7 linked regions of the Homo sapiens genome follow. The protein of the gene in region 7 interacts with the protein of the main gene of each other region in a pairwise test. Each region holds a gene or a part of one and is shown on either strand. Other genes may lie near its edges. The genes, in order: GLYR1, VPS54, ZNF343, NGLY1, TRIM23, ZNF829 and UBQLN1.

Region 1 (3,500 bases), on a different chromosome or scaffold from region 7:
CCGGAATTTTTTTGTTTTGTTTTTTTGAGACAGAGTCTTGCTCTGTTGCCCAGGCTGGAGTGCAGTGGCGCAATCTCAGCTCACTGCAAACTCTGCCTCCCGGGTTCATGCCATTCTCCTGCATCAGCCTCCTCAGTAGCTGGGACTACAGGCAACCGCCACCATGCCTGGCTAATTTTTTTTTTTTTTTTTGAGACGGAGTCTTGCTCTGTTGCCCAGGCTGGAGTGCAGTGGCACGATCACAGCTCACTGCAAGCTCCGCCTCCTGGGTTCATGCCGCTCTCCTGCCTCAGCCTCCCAAGTAGCTGGGACTACAGGTGCCCGCCACCGCGTCCGGCTAATTTTTTTGTATTTTTAGTAGAGATGGGGTTTCACCGTGTTAGCCAGGATGGTCTCGATCTCCTGACCTCGTGATCCGCCCACCTCGGCCTCCCAAAGTGCTGGGATTACAGGCGTGAGCCACCGCGCCCGGACTGGAATTTCTTAGAGACCAACAACTAGAACCAGATGTGACCATGTCAATGGCTCGGCTGAACACACACCTCCCCTGTGGATGCTGCCCTCCCCTCAGAACATATGTGGGTCCCAAAGTCCCCACTCCCTTATTTGGGCCAGATGCTCGGGGAGGAGGGATGCTTTGCCAGTGTCAAATGCAGACAGCTGCTCAAACCCCAATGCCAGGCGGGCGGCCTGGGTTGCTTCTCATCATAAGGCTGGCAGCTCCAGGACTTGATGCCCATCCCAGCCATGCAGCGACTGCCCATGGCTGTTCAGACTAGCTGCGGTTTGAAGGTGGAGCACGGGATAGGCTAGTCCCAAGGCTACTCGCCTCTCCTCTTCCCTCTCTGGCTTTGGCTCTAGAGTAACTTAACTGCCCACTCTTGTAAGCCTGGGTCTTGGGCTCTGATAGAAAAGATGCTGGAGAGCCAGCCCAAGGAAGGCTGCTACCTGGGCCAGCTCAGTGACGGTGTCAGCGTCCACTGTTGACATGTCCACGTAGCACTTCCCAGGGCGGATCCCTTGCAGCACACCACTGGGGCCCAGCACCAGCTGTGGGGACACAAGGGAGAAGCAATAGCCCAGGCTCCCGGGCAGATGCTCAGGAGCCCTACAGACCTCAGATCAGAATCCTGCTGCTGTTTTGGCTCATTTCCTGATTTCTATCAGCTGAAAAGGGAAGAACAATGAAATAAGCAAGGGATAGAAAAGTACTTCCCGCATGCTCCCATTTATCTTTAAAAAGAATCTATGTGAGTGTGTGCATTTCTTTTTATTTAAAAAAAAAAAAAAACAAACCCCATTTAAAAGAATAAACCTCAGCATTTACTTTGGGGACTTCTTTGGATTTACTTGGATTAGGCTAGTCACCAGTTTAATAAGATGACTACCACACTTGAACTTCTAAAATATACAAATACAGTGACAGCTAAACATAGAAGCTTGGCACCTGGACCAAAGGCACATTCAGTTCCAAAGCTTCTAGTTCAACAAGAACACATGAAGCCTGTTCAAGACACATTTCAGCACAGACTTCAAGGGCCCTAGTAGTGTTCATTCTTTGATCTGAATTAAAGGAAGTCTGTATTCAATTAATGCAAACACCCTTCACAATGGGAGATGGCCCCTGATGGGAAATTCAGCCCCCCACATGTGGACACTCACTTGGTGTGCAGGGGAGGAGGGGAAGAGGCCAGCCAGCAATCCTGGCTGTGACCCGGAGTTGCTGAGGGGAGGGAGGGGGTCCTTACGTCCTTGGCCGCCTTGGGATCCGACACGCAGGCGAAAGTGATGTCGCAGGTTGAGACGACTTCAGCGGGGGTTCTTCCCAGACGGGCCCCCTCCTGGATGAACAAATCACACTGCAAAAGTCACAGATCCTAACGTGAGCTGCAGGCAGTGCACAACAAACATGCCAGCCAGGCCAGAGAATTGCTGACCAGGCCTCCTGGCGGCCTACCAAGGCAGGAGGCTGAGGCCGGGAGCCTGGGTCATGGAGATAGGAGCCCAACTTTTGGGGAAGTGCACGGGGCCTTTTACTGGCCATCTTCAGTTTTTGCATGACGAGTGCCTAGGATGATGAACTGCTTCACAAGTGTCTGCTGAAGGTATGCTGTTTCAAGAATGGGGTATGAACAGTAGCACCTCTCCCCAGCCCCCGCTGTGCTGTCCTGGCTGTGGCCCTGAGCTATCAACACTCTGCTGGGAATGTGGGGATGTCGCTGGAAGCCTTCCACCTGGTGGCCATTCGTTTTTGGGTTGTTTCTCAACACTGTTGTCAGGTTAATAAGACTTCTGGAAGTGCCTAAAAACACTACCATTTTGGCTTTTTTTTTTTGAGACAAGGTTTTGCTCTGTCACCCAGGCTGGAGCACAGTGGTGCAATCATGGCTCACTGCAGCCTCAACCTCCTGGACTCAAGTGATCCTCCTGCCTCAGCCTCCTGAATAGCTGGGACTATAGGTGCATGCCCCATGTGTGATTTTTTTTTTTTTCTGTAGAGACAGGGTTTCACCATGTTGCCCAGGCTGGATGGGCCTACTATTTTCTATCAGACTTTTAATGTTGTTTATGATTCACATTTATCTATATTGTTGTCTTTCATAATTCTGGCATAATTATGGTTTATAGTGGTTGACTATGGAAAACTTCACTGAGAGATATACTGTGATTTACCTAATGGCTGACCTGTAGTTTGACACTTAGCCCACTTTCAATTGTAAAATCACATCACCAAACATCTTTACGTACAAAACTTCTCTATGTTTTAAATTCAGGTCTCCACAAATAGAATAAAACAGGTTCTAAAAGTTTTAAGGCTCTCAACAAATGTAGACAGATGACTTCCCAATGAGACTATGTCACTTCATAAAGATCACCAGCAAGCTCTCCTATTATGCCAGTACCAAGTATGTAATTTAAAAACTACAAATAAGTGCCCATAAATACATGTAAAATTCTTCCTACCTGATCATTTAACCAGTCAAAAAAGGCAACTGTTTCATTTTTTTTTTTTGAGACAGAGTCTCGCTGTCGCCCAGGATGGAGTGCAGTGGCACGATCTCAGCTCACTGCAAGCTCTGCCTCCCAGGTTCACGCCATTCTCCTGCCTCAGCCTCCCGAGTAGCTGGGACTACAGGCGCCCGCCACTGTGCCCGGCTAATTTTTCGTATTTTTAGTAGAGACGGGGTTTCACCGAGGTCTCGATCTCCTGACCTCGTTATCCCCCAGTCTCTGCCTTCCAAAGTGCTGGGATTATAGGCATGAGCCACCGCACCCGGCCTTGTTTGATATATTTTAATTACTCCTGATTACCGAATATTTTTTATGCCTTTGTTTCCTCTTTTGTGAGCCATTTTTTTGTCCTTTTTCTTTTCTGAGACAGGGTCTTGCTGCTGCCTAGGTGGGAATGCAGTGGTATGATCACAGCTCACTGCAGCCTCTACCTCCTGGGCCCAAGAGATCTTCTGGCCTCAGCCTCCCAAGTAGCTGGGACTATAGTA
Region 2 (3,500 bases), on a different chromosome or scaffold from region 7:
CTTTCCAGGAATCTGGGAAGTAAAAGCCGCTTTCATAATAATATTATTAATAAGATGCTATTTATCTATTTTACTCTCATTCTCTCATGATTGAACAGTGGGGATTTTTAGATGACTTGTGATATCATTATTCTGAAGGCTAATAGAATATGTGTTTGGGTAGTCTTGTGTGTGAGTGAATGGACACCACTTTATCTTGCCCTTTTGATTCTTATGTACCTGCTGTTCCTGCCATTTCGGAATCTGAAGGATGCAAGTAGGATAAAAAGCAAATCAAAGTTCTTTGCTATTAAGGTTATTCCAAATATGATCTTGGACAGACAGTATACACTGAGTAAACTTTCAGACTTTCAAGTTACGAAATTTTGGCTTTCCCACTAAGACGTGAATTGAAAAACTTAGGGAAAGTAAACAGTGAAAGATAGATCAAGCGTGATTGGGGCTGACTAAATGATATTTTTCTGAAGATACTCTCCCAGTATAACTGCGAATTCTTTGGGGAACACTGCTTCATTTAATGACATATTGGGAATGAAAAACAAACAAGAAATGAATGTTGAAATGAATTAACATAAAAATACTTCTGCATAGGATTTCTACCATCCTTAGAATCATCTCTCCTACTCCTGCCAGCCCCTTAGAATATCAACTGTTTTGGAAATCCGAAAATTTTGTTGAGTTGTTTTCTAAACCCTGAATAATTTGTTAGATAACTGCAGGTTAGACCACTATGGGGGGTCTTGGTCACAGCACATGGTCACATTTTCCTGAAAAAAAATTTAAAATTCTACTAATTGGTAAATATCCTATGAAAGTTTAGATTATCTTTTCACATCTTAATTTATAAAGTACTCCTTATAAAATAGAAAATCATAATGTCTTTGAACAAAGTCTAATAATTTCTATAAATCATTACCTTAGATAACAGCTTGTCAAATAAGCTATCCATTATCGCTACAAGCTTAGCTGATATTTCAGCTATGTGATCATGGTAGTCCTGCAATGAGAAATGATAATTGTATTTTTAAGTCCCTGGGACACATTTTTAAAATACTTAACAATTAAGGATCTAAACTTATGAAACGCCAATAGAAAATATATGAAAAAGTACCTTAGTGATATGATCAAAATGCCTAAGCATGCTATATTGCTTAGGTGGTAGTCGAGCTTCAAAATGAGCCCGGATCACAGGAATGTAGTGCACAATTAACTGCAAACATCGTGAAGAAAGAGCTGAAGATCCAGGGAGTAGATATATAATGGAGAAATAAAAAAAAAAAAGGTATTAGTTGATTTTAATTACAAATCAAATCAAATAAAAAACATCACTTATAAAGAACCAGTTTATTTCATAAACGAAGAGCCCTATGGCAGAAGGCAACATATTTCATTTTGTCTAATAATTTGATACTGAATAATGTAATGAACATGCTGCTTTCACAAAGGACTCAAGTTGTGAGTATTATCAGTATCACAATAACAAGACAACTGATTCTCTTATGACATTCAGATAGCTTTCACCCCCAAATACTTTATACACATTATATCTTAATATTTTCTAGAGTGGTGTAACTTCCAAGTAACTTATACTTGGAGGGGAAATGCATCGTAACCTTTTCCCCATGGTTAGTTTTTTTCAGTGATGAGTATACATAAAAGAGTAAGTAGCATTTATTTTTAGAGTAATGCCACTTTGGTTAGAGCCATGAAAACATGAGGTATAAAAAAACATGATGAGAACAGTGACATCACTGTTAACACTTCAGCAAGTGAATTAAACGCAAGAATCCATACCCAAATTTTTTGTAGTTATCGTTTTTAGTCCAACAACTTGCAGTGCACCAGCTCCAAGAACTAACTGGCAACTTCTTGAATTGAAGTACTAACAAAAGAAGGAGAAAAAAACCCCAAAATTTACTAAAAACTGTTCTTTATATCCTGGCAATGTGCTATTATAAAAATACATTCCCCTTTCCTCTCATTCAATGGCCAAATGAATTATCTAGTAGAAGCAATTAGTATCTATTTATTTAATGAAAAAGAAATGAGAAGGGGAGATTCTAAATGATAATATTTACTGATAAGAAAAAAGTTGAAAAATTCTAAAAATCAGTTCGCAGAAATTAATCTTTAATTTGCATGTACAAAACAAATTCGGTTTCAGTCATTCTTGTTGGGAAGTCCTATTTTCAAAAGTTATAAAAATCTGTCTTGGCTAAAACATGACAACTCAAGTCAGAACATAATTAACAGATTAGAGGTTTGAAAAAAATAATAAAGCATTTCCTCCGTACTGGTAGTTTAAAATATCTCAATATGAAATGGCTGAATAAAATCATCACATTTTCATTTTATATCAATGGTTCTGAAAGAATGATGCAAGAAAAATCTCTAACCTTAGTGAGATGAATTTTGTAAAGTTCAGTGAATTCCTTCCATGCACATTTGAAGCCAGTCCAGGTTTTTTGACCTAAGTGGCCTCAGTCATGTTCAGCACCTAACGAACAAATCATCTCCTGTCTCCAATGTCATTAACAACTCTATGGGTGAATGAGGATCACTAACTGTGGAGTAAGAAGGAAGCAGGCAGCCTGTTTCCAATAACATGTTGTGATTCAACCACAATCAAATGTTATAAAACTAATGTCTTAAAGTTAATTTGACCTTGAAATGTCTTTGAGTTAAGATTAGTCACACCCTAATGTATTAATTCCTCGAAAAATTTTTCCATAATGGAGTGAAGTCATACATACCTTCAATAAATCTGACAGACGAGTAAGCATGTCAGTAGTAACAGATGGGATGTTATCCACACACTGGCAATATTCAAGGATAATTCTTATTAACAGCAATACGGTTCTACAAGAAAAGAAAAATGGCCCAATAGGAAATCAAAACAAGAAAAATCAAAAGGATTTGGCATATAAAAATCAAATTACTTAATGGCACAAAGGATCTCTGAGAATATAATGACCTTGGTAACTATGTTAAAGTATGCATTTTACCTACTAGTACAGCAGGTTCTTGACTAACACAAGACAAGAGAGGTGTCTAGAATGCAAAATTTAAAGAGGCTCTTACTCTGTGCAATTGCAGGATCAGCTTGCACAACACTGAGAATGAGTGGCTCCTTAAATTCTGTACAACAGGCATAATACTCTCTGTATGGCATTCTTATTAAGTAAGGGAGTCGCTTCAGTAAGACAGGTATTGCATTCATTAGCCAATTCAGAAACACTGACAAAAAGCCTATCCAGTGTTTCTGATTACCAACATAGTAGGTCCTCCATCATAACTAATGAATTGATGAAGAAAACCTAGTCCAGATTTTCTTAGTGAGATGGAAAAAAAAAAAATCTATAATGGCTTCTAAGGAAAACATGTCTCCTAAGAATTTTATTGGTAGGTCACAAAAGGTTCTCTGGCTGGGCGCGGTGGCTCACACCTGTAATCCCAGCACTTTGGGAGGTCAAGGCAGGCAGATCACTGGAGGTCGGGAG
Region 3 (3,500 bases), on a different chromosome or scaffold from region 7:
TGCAACCTCCACTTTCCAGGCTCAAGCCATCCTCCCATCTCAGCCTCCTGAGTAGCTGGGACCACAGGTGTGCAGCACCACGCCCAGATAATTTTTCTATTTTTAGTAGAGACGGGGTTTTGTCATGTTGTCCAGGCTGAGTTCAAGTGATCCATCACTTCAGCCTCCCAAAGTGCTGGGATTACAGGCGTGAGCCACCGCATGTGGCCTCACACTCTAATTATTGAGTTTGGACAGAGTTGGAGGTAGGTAATAAGAAATGGCCCTCTTCCGGGCGCGGTGGCTCACGCCTGTAATCCCAGCACTTTGGGAGGCCGAGGTGGGCGGATCACGAGGTCAGGAGATCGAGACCATCCCGGCTAAAACGGTGAAACCCCGTCTCTACTAAAAATACAAAAAATTAGCCGGGCGTAGTGGCGGGCACCTGTAGTCCCAGCTACTTGGGAGGCTGAGGCAGGAGAATGGCGTGAACCTGGGAGGCGGAGCTTGCAGTGAGCCGAGATCCCGCCACTGCACTCCAGCCTGGGCGACAGAGCGAGACTCCGTCTCAAAAAAAAAAAAAAAAAAAAAAAAAAAGAAAAAGAAATGGCCCTCTTGAGTAGGTGAGTGGCATGATCCTTATTTTTCCTTCAGAGGAGCAACTTAAAAGGCAGGGTGGAAGGTGAACTAGAATGTGGAGAAAAGATGAAAATTTGGGTAGCACAACAGTGAGATGAGGGGAAAATAATAAAGGGGTATTCCAAGGTAGAATTGAGAGGACTCCATCACTAATTAGAAGGATGAGAATTTCAGGAAGAACAAGGAGGCAAGAAAGACTCAGAGCTCCGGCTGGTGACCAGGGATGGAGACACGGTCATTAACAGAAATCATCAACAGGTAAAGAGAAAAGGGAGTGGGAGAATTGGCCTTGCTGAATTCCAGATACTTCTCCCTCTTATAGTTCTTACCTGAATTGTTAAGTGTGTACAGTTTGAACTAAGCAATAGCAATTTTGTAGAAGAAATGGGCAGATTTTAAAACAATCTAGAGTTAAGACATTAAGGAATTACTGTCGATTTTGTTGAATGTGGTAATATTATGGTTACATTTTTAACAAATAGTCCTTCTCTGTTGGAAATGCATAGGATAGTATTTATAGGTAAAATTATGTGATGTCTGGGATTTCCTTCCAAATACTCCAGCAGCAAAAACAAGAAAATGAGGAGGTGGGGGGCTCAATGAAACAGGGATTATAGAATGTTGATAACTGAGGAAGCTCTAAATCCTAATTCTACCCAACCCGGTCATATTACACAAGTAAATTTCTTAACCTCTTAACATGCCACTTCTTCTTCTATCAATTCAGAGTTTTGATTCCTAACTTTCAAATTGTTGAGAGTTTAAAATATTGTGGAGACTATAAACCCAGTTGCCTGGCACAGAACAATGGCCCAATAAATGCTAATTACCATCATTTTTTATTTCACAGTAGCTGACAAATCCCTGGGAATCCAGCAGCCAAGATGAAATATGGCTGGGGCAAGGACGGTGATAACCTGAATGAGAGTACCAGTCTGGGGTAATATTCCCTGTGGAGATCCTTGCCCTTAAAATCACCCCAGTATTGTAGAAAAACAAGCAAGGCCTTGAGCCTCAATTGGAACACTTCAGGGTACAAGATGTCAGACGGGCAAAGGAAATACAGCCATGGTTTCGAGCAGAAAAGACGCTATGGGAATGTGAAAGGTAAGTGGTACCTACCTGATAGGAAGTTCTCGGGAGCACAGAAGTCTTTCCTTTCTCAAGAGATCGTCCTCTCCCAGCAGGCAGGGATTGGAGAAGGTGGACCTGAGGATGAAACAGGCAGTGTGAGATTCAGGATTGTCTCCTACCACCCAGATATGGAGGCTAGAAATCCCCAAGTTTAAAATGAGACGAGCCAAGATGGCCGAATAGGAACAGCTCCAGTCTACAGCTCCGAGCGCGAGCGACGCGGAAGACAGGTGTTTTCTGCATTTCCAACTGAGGTACCGGGTTTATCTCACTGGGGAGTGTCAGAAAGTGGGTGCAGGACAGTGGGTGCAGAGCACCGAGTGTTAGCCGAAGCAGGGTGAGGCACTGCCTCACCCGGGAAGTGCAAGGGGTCAGGGAATTCCTTTCCTAGTCAAAGAAAGGGGTGAGAGAGGGCACCTGGAAAATTGGGTCACTCCCACCCTAATACTGCGCTTTTCCAATGGTCTTAGCAAACGGCACACCAAGAGATTATATCCCGCGCCTGGCTCAGTGGGTCCTACGCCCATGGACCCTCGCTCATTGCTAGCACAGCAGTCTGAGATCAAACTGCAAGGCGGCAGCGAGGCTGGGGGAGGGGCACCCACCATTGCTGAGGCTTGAGTAGGTAAACAAAGCGTCCAGGAAGCTCGAACTGGGTGAAGCCCACTGCAGCTCAAGGAGGCCTGCCTGCCTGCCTCTGTAGACTCCACCTCTGGGGGCAGGGCATTGCCAAACAAAAGGCAGCAGAATCCTCTGCAGACTTAAATGTCCCTGTCTGACAGCTTTGAAGAGAGTATTGGTTCTCCCAGCACGCAGCTGGAGATCTGAGAATGGACAGACTGCCTCCTCAGGTGGGTCCCTGACCCCTGAGTAGCCTAACTGGGAGGCACCCCCCAGTAGGGGCAGACTGACACCTCACATGGACGGGTACTCCTCTGAGACAAAACTTCCAGAGGAACGATCAGGCAGCAACATTTGCTGTTCACCAATATCCACTGTTCTGCAGCCTCCGCTGCTGATACCCAGTCAAACAGGGTTTGGAGTGGACCTCCAGCAAACTCCAACAGATCTGCAGCTGAAGGTCCTGACTGTTAGAAAGAAAACTAACAAACAGAAAGGACATCCACACCAAAACCCCATCTGTATGTCACTATCATCAAAGACCAAAGGTACATAAAACCACAAAGATGGGGAAAAAACAGAGCAGAAAAACTGGAAACTCTTAAAAATCAGAGTGCCTCTCCTCCTCCAAAGGAATGCAGCTCCTCACTAGCAACGGAACAAAGCTGGATGGAGAATGACTTTGACAAGTTGAGAGAAGAAGGCTTCAGACGATCAAACTACTCTGAGCTAAAGGAGGAAGTTCGAACCCATGGCAAAGAAGTTAAAAACCTTGAAAAAAAATTAGACGAATGCCTAACTAGAATAACCAATGCAGAGAAGTCCTTAAAAGACCTGATGGAGCTGAAAACCATGGCACGAGAACTACGTGACGAATGCACAAGCCTCAGTAGCCGACTTGATCAACTGGAAGAAAGGGTATCAGTGATGGAAGATCAAATGAATGAAATGAAGCAAGAAGAGAAGTTAGAGAAAAAAGAATAAAAAGAAACAAACAAAGCCTCCAAGAAATATGGGACTATGTGAAAAGACCAAATCTACGTCTGATTGGTGTATCTGAAAGTGATGGGGAGAATGGAACCAAGTTGGAAAACACTCTGCAGGATATTATCCAGGAGAACTTCCCC
Region 4 (3,500 bases), on a different chromosome or scaffold from region 7:
AACTCCGTCTCAAAAAGAAGAAAAAACAAAAATTAGCCAGGAGAGATGGTGCATGCCTTTATTTCCAGAAACTCAGGAGGCTGAGGCACGAGAATCACTTCAACCTGGGAGGCAGAGGTTGCAGTGAGCCAAGATTTTGCCACTGTACTACAGCCTGGACAGAATGAGACTCTGTCTCAAAAAAAGAAAAAAACAAAACAAAAGAAAAGAAGTTTAAACAAGATTAAGAAAATGTGAATGGCTTTCCTGAGCCAGGACACTAACAAAATACTACTTAGCCCAGGAAAGAGATATTTTGTAAAATAAAATGTTTGCAAGCTTTTTTGCAGATTGGTTAACTATGTGCATTTTAAACTATAATACTGCAATTAAAAAGATAAAGTAGGAAATCTTAAAAGATATATTCTAACACTGTAATTGGAAAACTCCTAAGAAAAGGTGTTAAAAACCAAGAAAGATGTTAAGTGAGCTTCTGTAACTGTACCAACCTTAACTGCAAAACTGATGAAGACCTAAGGTATTCAAAATGGAATGCACATGATCTCAGGGAGGGGCATAAAAATCCATTGAGGTGCTTGTTAGACTTACAGAAATATCACAAGAATTTTTCTGACAGTAAAAACTTAGGAGAAGAATATGTAAGGACCTTGGTCAAAAGAGATTTTTGTAAACAGGATAATTTCCTATCAAATGGAATCATTTCAGTTTATCAAGAATGCCTGTAAGTTTGACTTTAGTTCTTCACAAGTATATATGGTGTATATTAATAATAAAATTTCACTAATTTGCTAGCATCCACTATCATTAAATTAATGCATTCTTAATTACCTTAAACCTAAAGAAGCTTTTTTATTGAATTAAGGTATTGATAATGGTTGTGCTGTTGGAAATAACCCCCACAGTGAAAGGCAGCAGGTACAATTTAGATCAGAAGTATTAATGCAGTAGAGGAAATCTGACAATTTTTTAAAGAGCTGAAGAAATTTGGATGTTTTAGAGTTATAAGAACTAAGAACAAAATATGGGGCATAAATTCAGGAATAAATCATAACACATTCCAAAGCTTTTGCTGTTTCAACACTTTGAAAGAAACAGTTAAAGAAGGTTTAATTCTAACATTACCGTTGAAGCAGATGGTGGATCTGATGACTGCCCTTGACGGTTCCTTGTGTGCTGGTTTAACCCACTGGGATTTGAAGATGGTGTTGTAGGAAGCTGGGTACTGGCTGCAGGTTGCTGAGATGACTTTACTTTGTGGCTCTTATTTGAGCCATCCAGTCTGCTACTTCTCTCTATGGCAATCAGGTCACGAATTTTTTGCAGCTGCTCCACTGAAGCTTTTTTAGGAAAGATGAGATGTGTTTCTCCCTGGAATTTATAAAATTAAAAAAAATGTGAACCTTTGCTTTATGCAGTCATTCTTTTGTGCACACACACACAGAAATGTATAATGAAACCAATAATATAGAATGCATGTTTCTAAAATCATACTGTTTTCTTACCATTATGGTTCTTTTTAAATACAGCCTAAGGTAAATAATGCCTAAACATAAACCAGAAAATTAAAAAAAAAATTATCTCCTTTTTGGCATTTAATCCTTAGCCTATTTAATGTGGTTCAAAGGACTTTCAGGAAAAAATATTTGATCTTCTAGAAACAATAAGTCAGAAGGCCTCATAAGGGTTGCAAAAATGCATATTCCTATCCTCTCTGCAATAGTATATGATACTACTATTCTCTATGAAATTCCCTATGAAATAATAATGACAGTAGAGATACAGCCACACAAAAGAATCCAGGGTCACATAAAACCAACAAGAAGTTATCTAACAACCTTTGAATCTTGTTAATCTGAGTCTTTAAAGAATAGCTACATGATTAGAAGCCTGTGTATGGGGTCAACTAATTTTTCCACGATAACGAAAAGTACACCCTGATAGTCAATCCAAAACTATGGATGGTTAACAGTAATAGGAAGGTAATCCGAACAAAACAAAAGAAATAAAAATCATGTATTTCAGTAGTGACTCATTTAAAGAATACCTATAAATATGCTAAGAATGCTTTAAAATAAAATGCTACAACAAATTCTATAATGTAAAACAGTAAATTACTCAAAACAAGAAAAAAGGTGAAATGAAATGACAATGTATTTGATCAAATTTCCAGGTATTGAAAAGAAACAATGTTAAAAACAGTAATTTCTCCAACTGCAAACAAGATAAAAAGTTGCAGCTGGGCATGGTGGCTCACGCCTGTAATCCCAGCACTTTGGGAGGCTCACATGGGCAGATTACCTGAGGTCAGGGGTTCGAGACCAGCCTGGTCAACATGGCAAAACCCTGTCTCTACCAAAAATACAAAAATAAGCTGGGCATGGTGGCGGGTGCCTGTAATCCCAGCTACTTGGGAGGCTGAGGCAGGAGAATTGCTTGAACCTGGGAGGCAGAGGTGAGCTGAGATCGTGCCACTGCACTCCAGCCTAGGTGACAGAGCAGGACTCAGTCTCAAAAAAAAAAAAAAAAAAAAGTTGCAACAGTCTGTAGTACACAGACCTGCAGATCATGAGCATTTAAATTAAACTCCAAAATCGACAATATTACTGTATTTCCCTGGTGATGGCAGACCTACAGGAATCAACTGAACAAGACATTACTCAATGACATGAAAGTCAATTCCATCTGAATCCTTTTTAAAAAGCTGGATTAGACCAGCAAGCTCCACGTATGATTCATAATTGCTATAAAAAAGACAACTACAATGTATTGTCTTTGTGTGTTCTAAGTACTGTGCTAGGCATTTTTTTCTCTGAGGCAGGGTCTCCCTCTGTCACCCAGGCTGGAGTGCAGTGGAGTGATCAAAGCTATAACCTCAAACTCTTGGGCTCAAGCGATCTTCCATCCTCAGCCTCCCAGCAGCTAGGACTACAGGTGCATGCCACCACACCTGGATGATTTTTATTTTTTGGAGAGACAGGGGTCTCACTCTTTTGCCCAGGCTGGTCTCAAACTCCTAACCTCAAATGATCCTCCCACCTCAGCCTCCCAAAGCAAAATGCTGGGCGTTTTAAATACATCATCTCAAGTAATACAACTACCCTGAAAAGTAGGTATTAGATTAATACTTTTTTTTTTTTTGGAGACAGAGTTTTGCTCTTGTTGCCCAGTCTGGAGTGCAGTGGTGTGATCTCGGCTCACTGCAACCTCCACCTCCCAGGTTCAAGCAATTCTCCTGCCTCAGTCTCCCAAGTAGCTGGGATTACAGGCATGCGCCACCACACCTGGGTAATTTTTGTATTTTTTAGTAGAGACAGGATTTCACCACGTTGGTCAGGCTGGTCTCAAACTCCTGACTTCAGGTGATCCGCCCACCACAGCCTCCCAAAAAGCTGGGATTATAGGCGTGAGCCACCATTCCCGGCCAATACTCACATGAAAATACAAAGGCTCAGGGAAGTTAACCTGCTTGAAGCCACAGAACAACTGGCAGAGCAGGGATT
Region 5 (3,500 bases), on a different chromosome or scaffold from region 7:
TAAAAATTTAGACATTAACTACTGAACTATATTAGAAATTACTTTTGAGGTATGGGTAAAATGATTAATAGTCCATTTTGTTAGATTTAGTTTTTGTTTTTATATTTATTCTAGGTGATTCAGGTGTCTGGGGATTGAAAAAAAATTTTGCTTTATTGGAGCTTTTGGAACGACTGCAGAATGGGCCTATTGGTCAGTATGGAGCTGCAGAAGAATCCATTGGGATATCTGGAGAGGTATTGATCATACTTGGTGAAATATTTGTTACGAGCATGAATTTTTCTTTTAATAGATGCCATTATTAGCACAATATTACTTCATTTATTTCAGCAGGTAAATTTCTAGAAACACAACTTTTCATTACATTACAGTTCTGAAGGCCAACACTATTCCCAAGAGAAAAAACTAGAATTATTTGAAAATCCTATGCCTAAACTATGCTTTATGTGTGAACTTTTTTTTCCTTATCATAATTCAGTTCTACCAAGAATAAAGTGAAAAGAGGAAGAAGATTATGGAATAGTAAGAAAGATATGTAAGCAACAGTAGAGAAGAGGATGCAAAAGTAGTCAACAGTAAAACTCAATGAGAGAAAGAAAAACTCGATGTAAGAGGCCATTTAATACAGAGGGGAAAATGCCTTAAAGATAGCAGTAACTTCTGAGGGAATTGTTACTGTTATAGCTTCAAGAAAAGGTTAAACTTTGTATAGATGTACTGTCTTTATCCATACAGGTAGATGTCTAGTAAATATCAGAATCCATGAACACTGGATTTTAATAATGTAAAAGTATATTTTTAGCACTTATGTGTTTGCATAGCTGCACATATGTACTATAGGACATGGCTTTCGTAGGCTGTTATGGGTAAAAATATATTTGGAGTAAATATCAGTTAATGATTTTGGTGATCAACTTGCAAACCACATATTTTGTATGAAGGAAAAAAAATGTCGGATTGCTTTCACTTCTCTTTCATTAGATGATGATTTCTTTATACTAAAGTGAATCAGTGAAATGAATTTCAAACTGCAACACTCTGTTTTCTAAAAGTTATGCAGTTCTTTCTGTGCTAAATCTTTAATCTTTATTTCAAAAGACATTACTGTTAGCTAATGTTGACATTATAGTTTATAATTTATTTATTTGTCAGGTCTGGGAAACAGAAGACCTGAATTTTTATGGTACATGTGTTTATTTCTCATAATTGCAAACAAAACTCTTCCACTTTGGATTCATTTTTTATTTAATGTGATAAAGAATGACACCATTGATGTATTTAAACATTTTTATTTTTGAAAAAATTTATACTAAATTTCTCCCCTTCCAATTATGGCCTTTTAATATTGAGTAAAAGTGTTCAAAACATTCTTGATTATCTGACATGTAATTTTTTATCTACTTGAAATAAAAGTAATTATTTCATAATTAGTTATTTTTTGTAATTCCTGAAAACTAGAAATAATATTTACATGCTTACATATAGGTTTTATTTATTTGTTTATTGTTATTTTTTAAGACAGAGTCTCACTCTGTCACCCTTGCTGGAGTGCAGTGGCGTGATCTCAGTTCCCTGCAGCCTCCACTTCCTGGCTTCAAGTGATTCTCGTGCCTCAGCTACCTGAGTAGCTGGTATTAGAGGCATGTACCACCACACCTGACTAATTTTTGGATGTTTAGTAGAGATGGACTTTCCCCATGTTGGCCAGGCTGGTCTCTTACTCCTGGCCTCAAGTGATCACCTGCCTCAGCCTTCTTAAAGTGCTGGGATTACAGATGTTAGCCACTGAGCCTGGCCTATTTTTTTTTTTATTTGCTTAAATCAGTGGTTTTCTGCCGTGATTGTGCAATAGACTCACCTGTGGAGCTATTAAAATAACATGGCGTATAATTAGAAAAATATATACAAGTCTAGGGTTCATCCACAACCTGTTGAAATAAGAATTTCTCTTCCAGACAGCTATGTTTTTAAAAGCTTACAGCTAATTCTGATGCATACTCCTACATTTTCTAAATAGCATTTGTGCTTCTGTCCTTCCTATACATCATCATGACAACTAATATTTAAAGCTATGGGGATGTATTTAATATCAGATTTTTGTAGTTTTACAGAAAGACTTTTGACTTCTCTATGGTTTAGTTTCTTTTGTGTAAAGTGAGGGGATTTGGTGGAAGAGATCTTTGCACCGAATATGAATCTATGAGAATAGTTCTATTTTTGGCTTCAAATTCATAACATATATTGGCCAGTTAATCTTGGAAATAGCTTCTTACCCCTAGAAATGAATGCTTCTCAGATGAGTATTGAATGACCTTTGTTCTTAATGACCAATATATTTTCATATGTAAATATTGTTCAGTTAAGCAAAAAGGATTATGGATTCTATATTTAAAAATTCGTCATGTTATACTGATTGGGTTCAATTTTAAGGCATTAATTTTTTGTTTATCAGAGCATCATTCGTTGTGATGAAGATGAAGCTCACCTTGCCTCTGTATATTGCACTGTGTGTGCAACTCATTTGTGCTCTGAGTGTTCTCAAGTTACTCATTCTACAAAGACATTAGCAAAGCACAGGCGAGTTCCTCTAGCTGATAAACCTCATGAGAAAACTATGTGCTCTCAGCACCAGGTGCATGCCATTGAGTTTGTTTGCTTGGAAGAAGGTTGTCAAACTAGCCCACTCATGTGCTGTGTCTGCAAAGAATATGGAAAACACCAGGGTCACAAGGTATGAATTTAATTATTAATCAGTTGGATCACTGTAGCTACTTTACCAGCTCAGTATTCGTTTTCACTGACCTGGTTCTTTATTCTGAAAGTAGGGATTGAAGAAGAGTTAAGTGATGAGTGATTGGGTTTGGTAGCATGAAAATAAATGAGAGATTTAATTTCTGAATGTTATAAAAAAAAAAAAACTTCAAAGAGGCATCATGATTCTTCACAAAAAAATAGCTTTCGAGCAGGAAACAAACATTCTGTTTGCTTGCATGTTTTCATAATGCACCAGATTGTTTTGACAATATTTATGTCTGTTAGCTCTTACTTAGGATATGATTTTAGAGATAGTCTCTTGGTTTTTTGTTTAGCAATAAACGGACTTCCAAATTTTAAATTACTTCTTTGCAGTACAGTTTTCTTATAAAGGAGTGAAAGTAAATTAGTATTTTTCTGTGTCATAAAAGTCACTTGTGGCTGATGCTTTTTTGTATTAATAGGGATTTAAATAGTTTTTTATATTATTAGTCAATACTATGAGTTCTTTTCTCTAATTATGGTACATTTTATAGCATTCAGTATTGGAACCAGAAGCTAATCAGATCCGAGCATCAATTTTAGATATGGCTCACTGCATACGGACCTTCACAGAGGAAATCTCAGATTATTCCAGAAAATTAGTTGGAATTGTGCAGCACATTGAAGGAGGAGAACAAATCGTGGAAGATGGAATTGGAATGGCTCACACAGAACATGTATGGATTTTTTTTCTTCTTCACTTT
Region 6 (3,500 bases), on a different chromosome or scaffold from region 7:
GTGAGACTCTGTCTCAAAAAAAAAAAAAAGAAAGAAAGAAAAGAAAAATTGTGATATAATTCTATTGCATGGACAAAAAATGAAGACTGTGGTATGGGAAATCTCAATCCATAGTTACCTGCCTAGAAATCACTGGAAAATATGTATCAAAAAATAGCAATATAGGAATATTAATTAGAAATATAGGAAAAATGCTAAGAGAAACAGCAAAAAGAGTAGCCACCTAAGGGGAGTAGGATTGGGTTAGTGGGACAATGCCCTGCCATTTTTCATGTCTTTTAACATTTCTTGAAAAATTTTTTTTTTTTTTGAGACGGAGTTTCGCTCTTGTTGCCCAGGTTGGAGTGCAGTGGCACAATCTCGGCTCACTGCAACCTCCACCTCCCGGGTTCAAGCGATTCTCCTCCTTCAGCCTCCCGAGTAGCTGGGATTACAGGCGCCGGTCACCACACCCAGCTAATTTTTGTATTTTTAGTAGAGACAGGGTTTCACCATGCTGGTCAGGCTGGTCTCAAACTCCTGACCTCAAGTGATCCACCTGCCTCAGCCTCCCAAAGTGCTGGGATGACAGGCGTGAGCCACCACGCCTGGCCCATTTCTTGAATTTTTAAAATGCGAAATGGGTTAAACATAAATTTAAAGTATCACTTAGACAACAGCATACTTTAAGTTTCTTGGAAATTACAATTCTTATAAGACTGTCATAATTATTCCCTATTAACATAAACAAATTCAACTTTTATACCCTTATGGTAGCAGAAATTTCCACAATATAAATACTACTGAATGAATCTTTCATTTCAGACATTTTCTTAGGCAAAAATACTTTTAAGACCTTTTCCAGATATGCAGGCCCTTCCCCATACCTTGCCCTATGCATCTCTTCCATTTTGCTGTTCCTTAGTTGTATCCTTTGTAATAAAACTATAATCAGGCCGGGTGCGGTAGCTCATGCCTGTAATTCCAGCACTTTGGGAAGCCAAGGGGGGTGGATCACCTGAGGTCAGGAGTTTGTGACCAGCCTAGCCAACATGGAGAAACCCCATCTTTACTAAAAATACAAAAAATAGCCAGGTGTCGTGGCGCATGCCTGTAATCCCAGCTACTCAGAAGGCCAAGGCAGGAGAATTGCTTGAACCCGGGAGGCGGAGGTTGCAGTGAGCCGAGATTGTGCCGTTGCACTCCAGCCTGGACAACAGAGTGAAACGCCATCTCAAAACCAACAAACAAAGAAACCAACAAAAAAGTAAAACTATCATCATAAGTATAGTGCTTTCCTGAGTTCTATATGTTATTCTAATGAATTATTGAACCTGAAGGAGAGTTACGGGAACCTCTAAATTTTTGGCTGGCTAGGCAGAAGTGCAGTGCCTTAGACTTGTGGCTGGTGTCTGAAGCAGGTACAGTCTTGTGGGACTGAGTCTTTTTTTTTTTTCTTTGAGACTGAGTCTACTCCATCACCCAGGCTGGAGTGCAGTGGTGCGATCTCAGCTCCCTGCAACCTCTGCCTCCCAGGTTTAAGCAATGCTTCTGCCTCAGCCTCCTGAGTAGCTGGGACCACAGGCACACACCACCACATCCAGCTAATTTTTGTATTTTTAGTAGAGATGTGGGTTCACCATGTTGTCCAGGCTGTTCTCAAACTCCTGACCTCAAGTGATCCTCCCATCTCGGCCTCCCAAAGTCCTGGGATTATAGGCATGACCAGCTGGGACTGAGCCTCTTAAGCAATGGGGTCTATGTTAACTCTGGGTAGTGTCAGAATTCAGTTAAACTATAGGACACTCAGTTAGTGTCCCAAAAATTTTGTTTATAAAAGGACACACATTCCCAATTGATAGGAGAAATGAGGGTACTTCTCCCTCACCTTAGGACAAGCAAGGGGGCCCCTTTAGACTCCAGGGTCCAAAGTGGAATGATGAGATACTTTGGAATAATTTTTGCTGTATTCTCTGGAGCTTAGGGGGCACAAAGATTAGTACCTATTTCCCTCTTTGGACTAGATGTGGACCCAATAAAGGGACAAAGTGACCTCAACAAAGGAATGGATCACAGAATGCAGAAGTGTATGACAGATGTCATAAGTAGCCATTTCAAGAAGACATGCTGTGCATATCCCAGGAAATGCAATTAGAGGTTTCCAGCAGGGGCTTCTCTGAGAGACTCTTAATAGTGTCTCCTAACAAAGGAGTGTTGAACATCCATCAAGGCAAAAGAGATCAACACCAAAACAAGTCAAGAAAGACTTTTCTTTTCCTTACCTCCTCTTCCCTACCCCTGCTCTAATCTCATAGGATCCAGAGACTGACTTAGGCAGGAGAAATAGAAGCTCAGGGCGAGGAAATCAAGAAGCTTAATTATGTCCCTTTTCATACTTTGCAAGCTTGAAGCAATTCTCAGCTCAGAGAAGAGGCTTTAAATGAAACTCACATATTATTACAGTGAACTAGAGGTTGTAATTAGTAAAATGAGACTAGATTTTGACTGAAAACAATCAAAGGACATCAAAGAGTGATAAAAATTATAGTCTATACCAGTTCTTATCCAGGGCAACAAAAAAATTAACCCACAGAGAGGGTTGAGAGTAGAAATTATGAGGAAAAAGTTTTTCTTTTGCTTGCTTCATATGGAATCCTGCTTATTTCAAAATGCTGATCACAAGCAGATTTGGTTTTTCAGTTACACAGTCACATCATCTATAAAGCGATAATCTTATGCCCTCTTTTGTAATTTTTAACCTAATTTTTTTTCTTATGTAAGTGTTTTGGTTAATATCTATAAAACAATGTTAAATAACATTGGTAATGTGGTATATCCTTGTTTTACTTCTAATTTTCAAATATTTTGATGTTTCAAATATTTCCTGATTAAACATTAGATTAAGTTCTGAAAACAAATTTTATTTCTTTTAAAATTTATTGTCCCCCGGGCACAGTGGCTCATGCCTGTAATCCCAGCACTTTGGGAGGCCGAGATGGGCAGATCACCTGAGGTTGGGAGTTCAAGACCAGCCTGACCAGCATGGAGAAACACCGTCTCTACTAAAAATACAAAAATTAGCCGGGCGTAGTGGCGCATGCCTGTAATCCCAGCTACTCGGGAGGCTGAGGCAGGAGAATCGCTTGAACCCAGGAGGTGGAGGTTGTGGTGAGCCGAGATCATGCCATTGTGCTCCAGCCTGGGAAACAAGAGTGAAACTCTGTCCCAAAAAAAATAAAAATTTATTGTCTACTACAGTATACTACATGTCCCTAGTTATTCCCGTTAATACTGGGCAACAATCTTCTCTATAGAAATGAGAAGTGTAACTAGAGACTGATGCAAGAGGGGAAGCAGATATTCTATTTGGGCTTTGGCACAGGAGAGGGAAGACTCAGTCCTCTTTAAAAGAAATTCAGATAGAAAGGCCTTACACAAAATACTTAGTTAGACTTATTCTTATCCTGATTTTCTCTGCATCTGTACCAAACACATACAATTTAAAAATTGAGAGTAGGCCC
Region 7 (3,500 bases):
TTAACTGGAAATATCTGAAACAAGTAATGTACCTTGTTTTATTCTATCTTCCCCCAAGTGCCTCAGCTGGCACTTAAAAGGGAGGAAGGTAGAACATAAATAAAAAAAGGAAAAGGGAAGATACTGTCCACAAGAGGGATCTCCAGAAGAACAAAAACAAAAAAATGAGGCATATTCTCTCTCAATGAGAATGGTGGTTATGATAATGACATGCAATATCCTAAAAAATAAAAGCAATCATTTTCTTAGGCTTTTCCTTGAACAAACGTGAATATATGCCATTGAAAGAAAAATGGGAGTAACTGGCATTCATGAAGATATATTTTCTACTACACTGGCAGAATAAACATAAACATCAATACATGAACTATGTAACATGGCTTGCTTAGAAACCTCAACACACAAGTGGCAGGCACAGAGAAAATCTAGATCTGAAAAGGACCACTACATCTACCTGCCTACTACAAAACAGCTAATATTAGGTCCAAAAAAATAACACCGCAAAACAGCAACCAACTTGCCAGAGAAATGGAGCTGCTAGGTGAAAATCAGTCAGGCCTAGCACCAACAGTCCTCTGGGAAAAGTATTAAAATGATTTAAGACCTAAAAGATGTAAATCCATTTGAGAACACCAAGATTAGCATCTGGATTTCACCTCACTACTACCAGAGATGAGAAAAGTGGCATCTCCTAAACTTCAAATAAACGTTAAGAATTTAAAAATCAGGATCATTATTAGTATGATGTCATATACCTGAAAATAAGATTAAAATACACAAGGAGCATAACCAGAGCTAATAAATTCTTGTAGCTTCAAAAGACACATTTTATATCATTTTCCCCAGGCGGAGTAAAAAGTCAACTAACAAGGATTTACTGATAGCCTATTTATCTATCCAAAGTCTGGGGAGGAAATGATCCTTGCCCTCAAGAAGTTAACCGTATTTAAGAGCAATGTAAATGCTGGTAGAGAAAATTCGCCCCAATTCTTGCAAAGTGATCTTTTAGTTAATTTCAATACAATAACAAAAGCAGATGTCAGACAACCTTTCAGGAACATACAGTATTTATTTCAAAGTGACCAGTAAGTTCACAGTAAGTAAACTCATACAGGCTTAAGGTCAACAAACCTGCTTCTTTATTGGTTCCAAATACTTATCATCAACATATTAACGAGGTTATCACACATATCTTTTGGAATTCACTTCATTTCATCTTAAAAAAGCATGTCATCTTAAACGTATCCTTTCACAGATAATCATCTTATTAGATACTTCTTATAACTTACCTGAGTGCTTATACCACAAGTTTTTACACTCAAGAGTCTTTTTAAATATTTAAAAATCAAAAGAATAGAAAAACCACAAATTTTAATCTGCAGATAACAAGAACATTGTAAAAGTTTCTAAATTATCTGTAATAAAAGACATGCCAATCTAGTACTAGCAACATTTTGTTTTAGAGTAAAAAAATAGTATGTGAGTGCTCAAGTCACTTTACTAAAGTAAGATTATTACAAAATTGCTACGCATGTGCTTGTTAAAGTCAAATTTTAAAAGCAAGATGCACATTCAGTATTAGCCAAATACACACTTAAAATGGCTTATTATGGTAAATTGAAGCATTTAATACTAACAACTCAGTCTGATAAGTTTCATATGCATAAATCAATCTTCCATAAAATGTACCTCCAATATACAGAATCACAGACACAAAAATTCTTCTTAAAATTTGTTATTTCCAATTCCACAAATTTGGTGAGGGCATAAGTTATTACTGAGAATTATACACAAAGATACCTGAATCAATATAGTTTTAGAATTTAGAAAATAAAAACCATTCATTTGACTTAAAGCTTTTAAAATTTAAGGGATGAGATTAACTATAAAGTCTTCCAAATTCCTGACACACTACAGAAGCCATTTTTAACGAACAGCAAATATAAACTACAGATTATCAAGGTTTATTTCACATTCTCCGTGGTTTTTCAAGCCCTGTGGTATGGAACCTAGATAGTACCTAGGCAACTTGAGGGAGAAAGGGTTATCGGACGCAATTATCTCAAAATCTCTAAGGATGAGGCCCCAACCATCGGTACTGTCTATAAAGCTTCCCAAGTGATCCTGAGTGTTCAGCCAGCATTAAGATCCCCAATTTTCTTAGCTGTGGTCTCTTTAGAAACAAATTAGAAAAAGGAATACATTAATAAGGGACCTGTATACGATTTTCAGCAGGGGAATCAATAGTTGAAAGAAGGAGAACATTGTTCTGACAAATTCCCGTCTTTAATAAATGCTATTTTACAACTGCCATTCTGAGCATGACTATTATAATCTGAGTGATCTACTAAATAAAAGTATTTCAAATGTATTAACATTGCTCTTAATTGCTTTCAAGATTTACATTTCATTAAGTAGTTTATCTTCAAAAGAGTGGGCATTCCAGAACTCTGTACTTGTCTCCTAACTCAACATATGTAGAAACAAACTAAACCTGCACTTCTTTCTAGTCAATGAATGGCAGAGATAAAGTTGTTTTAATTACATATGAAGTATTAATTTACTGCAAAGAAACACACGGTCTAAAAAATTGGAGACACAGTTTACTTATTTTTCTAGTGTATTAAGATATCATACACAACACAAATGTGCCAAAATCACAATTACAAGATTAGGTTATTTTAATTCACACTGCACAGTCTTTTTCAATACAATTACAAACTCACCTGTGCAGCAAGGTCAGGATTCTGGCTTAGTGACTGCATCATGCTTCTCATGTAGGGGGCAGACAACATGTTTTGCATCAGTTGTGGGTTTTCAGTTATTTGTTGCAACAAGCTCTGCATTCCTGGTGTGTTGAACATACTAGCTGAAAGTTTGTTTTTAAAAAAGACATATTAAGGAAAAATACTTAAACAAAAGTTAAAGCTTTAAAATATAATATGCACTGTGTTTAATTTCACCAAGTACAAATGATTATACATATTATGTATCAACTGAACTACGAAAGAACTTTAAAACTAAAACATCTCTAAAAGTACATGCCCAACATATACCAGGAAAAGAGGACTGATGAGTTTAAACATTCTGCATTTACAGTAAAATCTTGTCTAATGAAGAGCTAGCTTCTGAAGTCAACTTAAGGCAAAAATTACGTATGGTCAAAATTACTGCTGAAAAATTCCATAAAGTGAAAAGGACTGAGCCAACTTTTCCTCCAAGACTGCAAAGAATTAATTAGAATCATATTCGGCACTTAATATTGCCCACCCTTATGAAAGAAGTAAGCCTTCATGCCCAAGGCAACAAAAGATGTAATGCCTCCACCCATTTTCACTGTGTACTGCCACTCACTGAGTAAAATGGTAGGCACATTTAACATTTGAAACCATAGAGCACAGTGACTCCAAGCAGTATCAGGAGCCTGATTACGTGGGTTCAAATCTAATCTAACCCATGTGATCTTGGGCAAGTTATCTAGCGTCTTCATACTTCAGGTT

Evidence for each region.
Region 1: the proteins of UBQLN1 (region 7) and GLYR1 interact in binary tests that used the Homo sapiens proteins (3 or more experiments, as listed by UniProt).
Region 2: the proteins of UBQLN1 (region 7) and VPS54 interact in binary tests that used the Homo sapiens proteins (3 or more experiments, as listed by UniProt).
Region 3: the proteins of UBQLN1 (region 7) and ZNF343 interact in binary tests that used the Homo sapiens proteins (3 or more experiments, as listed by UniProt).
Region 4: the proteins of UBQLN1 (region 7) and NGLY1 interact in binary tests that used the Homo sapiens proteins (3 or more experiments, as listed by UniProt).
Region 5: the proteins of UBQLN1 (region 7) and TRIM23 interact in binary tests that used the Homo sapiens proteins (3 or more experiments, as listed by UniProt).
Region 6: the proteins of UBQLN1 (region 7) and ZNF829 interact in binary tests that used the Homo sapiens proteins (3 or more experiments, as listed by UniProt).

What each region holds. Positions count from the first base shown.
Region 1 is NC_000016.10:4,812,789-4,816,288, forward strand, and holds part of GLYR1 (cytokine-like nuclear factor N-PAC), read right to left. Parts: intron 1,860-3,500; coding exon 1,749-1,859; intron 1,168-1,748; exon of another isoform or gene 1,051-1,167; coding exon 949-1,050; intron 1-948. UniProt on the Homo sapiens protein: Cytokine-like nuclear factor with chromatin gene reader activity involved in chromatin modification and regulation of gene expression. Acts as a nucleosome-destabilizing factor that is recruited to genes during transcriptional activation.
Region 2 is NC_000002.12:63,911,429-63,914,928, forward strand, and holds part of VPS54 (vacuolar protein sorting-associated protein 54), read right to left. Parts: intron 2,860-3,500; coding exon 2,754-2,859; intron 2,498-2,753; exon of another isoform or gene 2,397-2,497; intron 1,883-2,396; coding exon 1,795-1,882; intron 1,234-1,794; coding exon 1,112-1,233; intron 998-1,111; coding exon 917-997; intron 1-916. UniProt on the Homo sapiens protein: Acts as a component of the GARP complex that is involved in retrograde transport from early and late endosomes to the trans-Golgi network (TGN).
Region 3 is NC_000020.11:2,498,916-2,502,415, forward strand, and holds part of ZNF343 (zinc finger protein 343), read right to left. Parts: intron 1,828-3,500; 5' UTR 1,741-1,827; intron 1-1,740. UniProt on the Homo sapiens protein: May be involved in transcriptional regulation.
Region 4 is NC_000003.12:25,762,944-25,766,443, forward strand, and holds part of NGLY1 (peptide-N(4)-(N-acetyl-beta-glucosaminyl)asparagine amidase), read right to left. Parts: intron 1,369-3,500; coding exon 1,123-1,368; intron 1-1,122. UniProt on the Homo sapiens protein: Specifically deglycosylates the denatured form of N-linked glycoproteins in the cytoplasm and assists their proteasome-mediated degradation. Cleaves the beta-aspartyl-glucosamine (GlcNAc) of the glycan and the amide side chain of Asn, converting Asn to Asp.
Region 5 is NC_000005.10:65,610,834-65,614,333, reverse strand, and holds part of TRIM23 (E3 ubiquitin-protein ligase TRIM23), read left to right. Parts: intron 1-114; coding exon 115-236; intron 237-478; exon of another isoform or gene 479-607; intron 608-2,452; coding exon 2,453-2,731; intron 2,732-3,290; coding exon 3,291-3,473; intron 3,474-3,500.
Region 6 is NC_000019.10:36,909,792-36,913,291, forward strand, and holds part of ZNF829 (zinc finger protein 829), read right to left. Parts: intron 1-3,500. UniProt on the Homo sapiens protein: May be involved in transcriptional regulation.
Region 7 is NC_000009.12:83,666,459-83,669,958, forward strand, and holds part of UBQLN1 (ubiquilin-1), read right to left. Parts: intron 2,870-3,500; coding exon 2,727-2,869; intron 2,174-2,726; coding exon of another isoform or gene 2,072-2,173; exon of another isoform or gene 1,050-2,071; intron 1-1,049. UniProt on the Homo sapiens protein: Plays an important role in the regulation of different protein degradation mechanisms and pathways including ubiquitin-proteasome system (UPS), autophagy and endoplasmic reticulum-associated protein degradation (ERAD) pathway.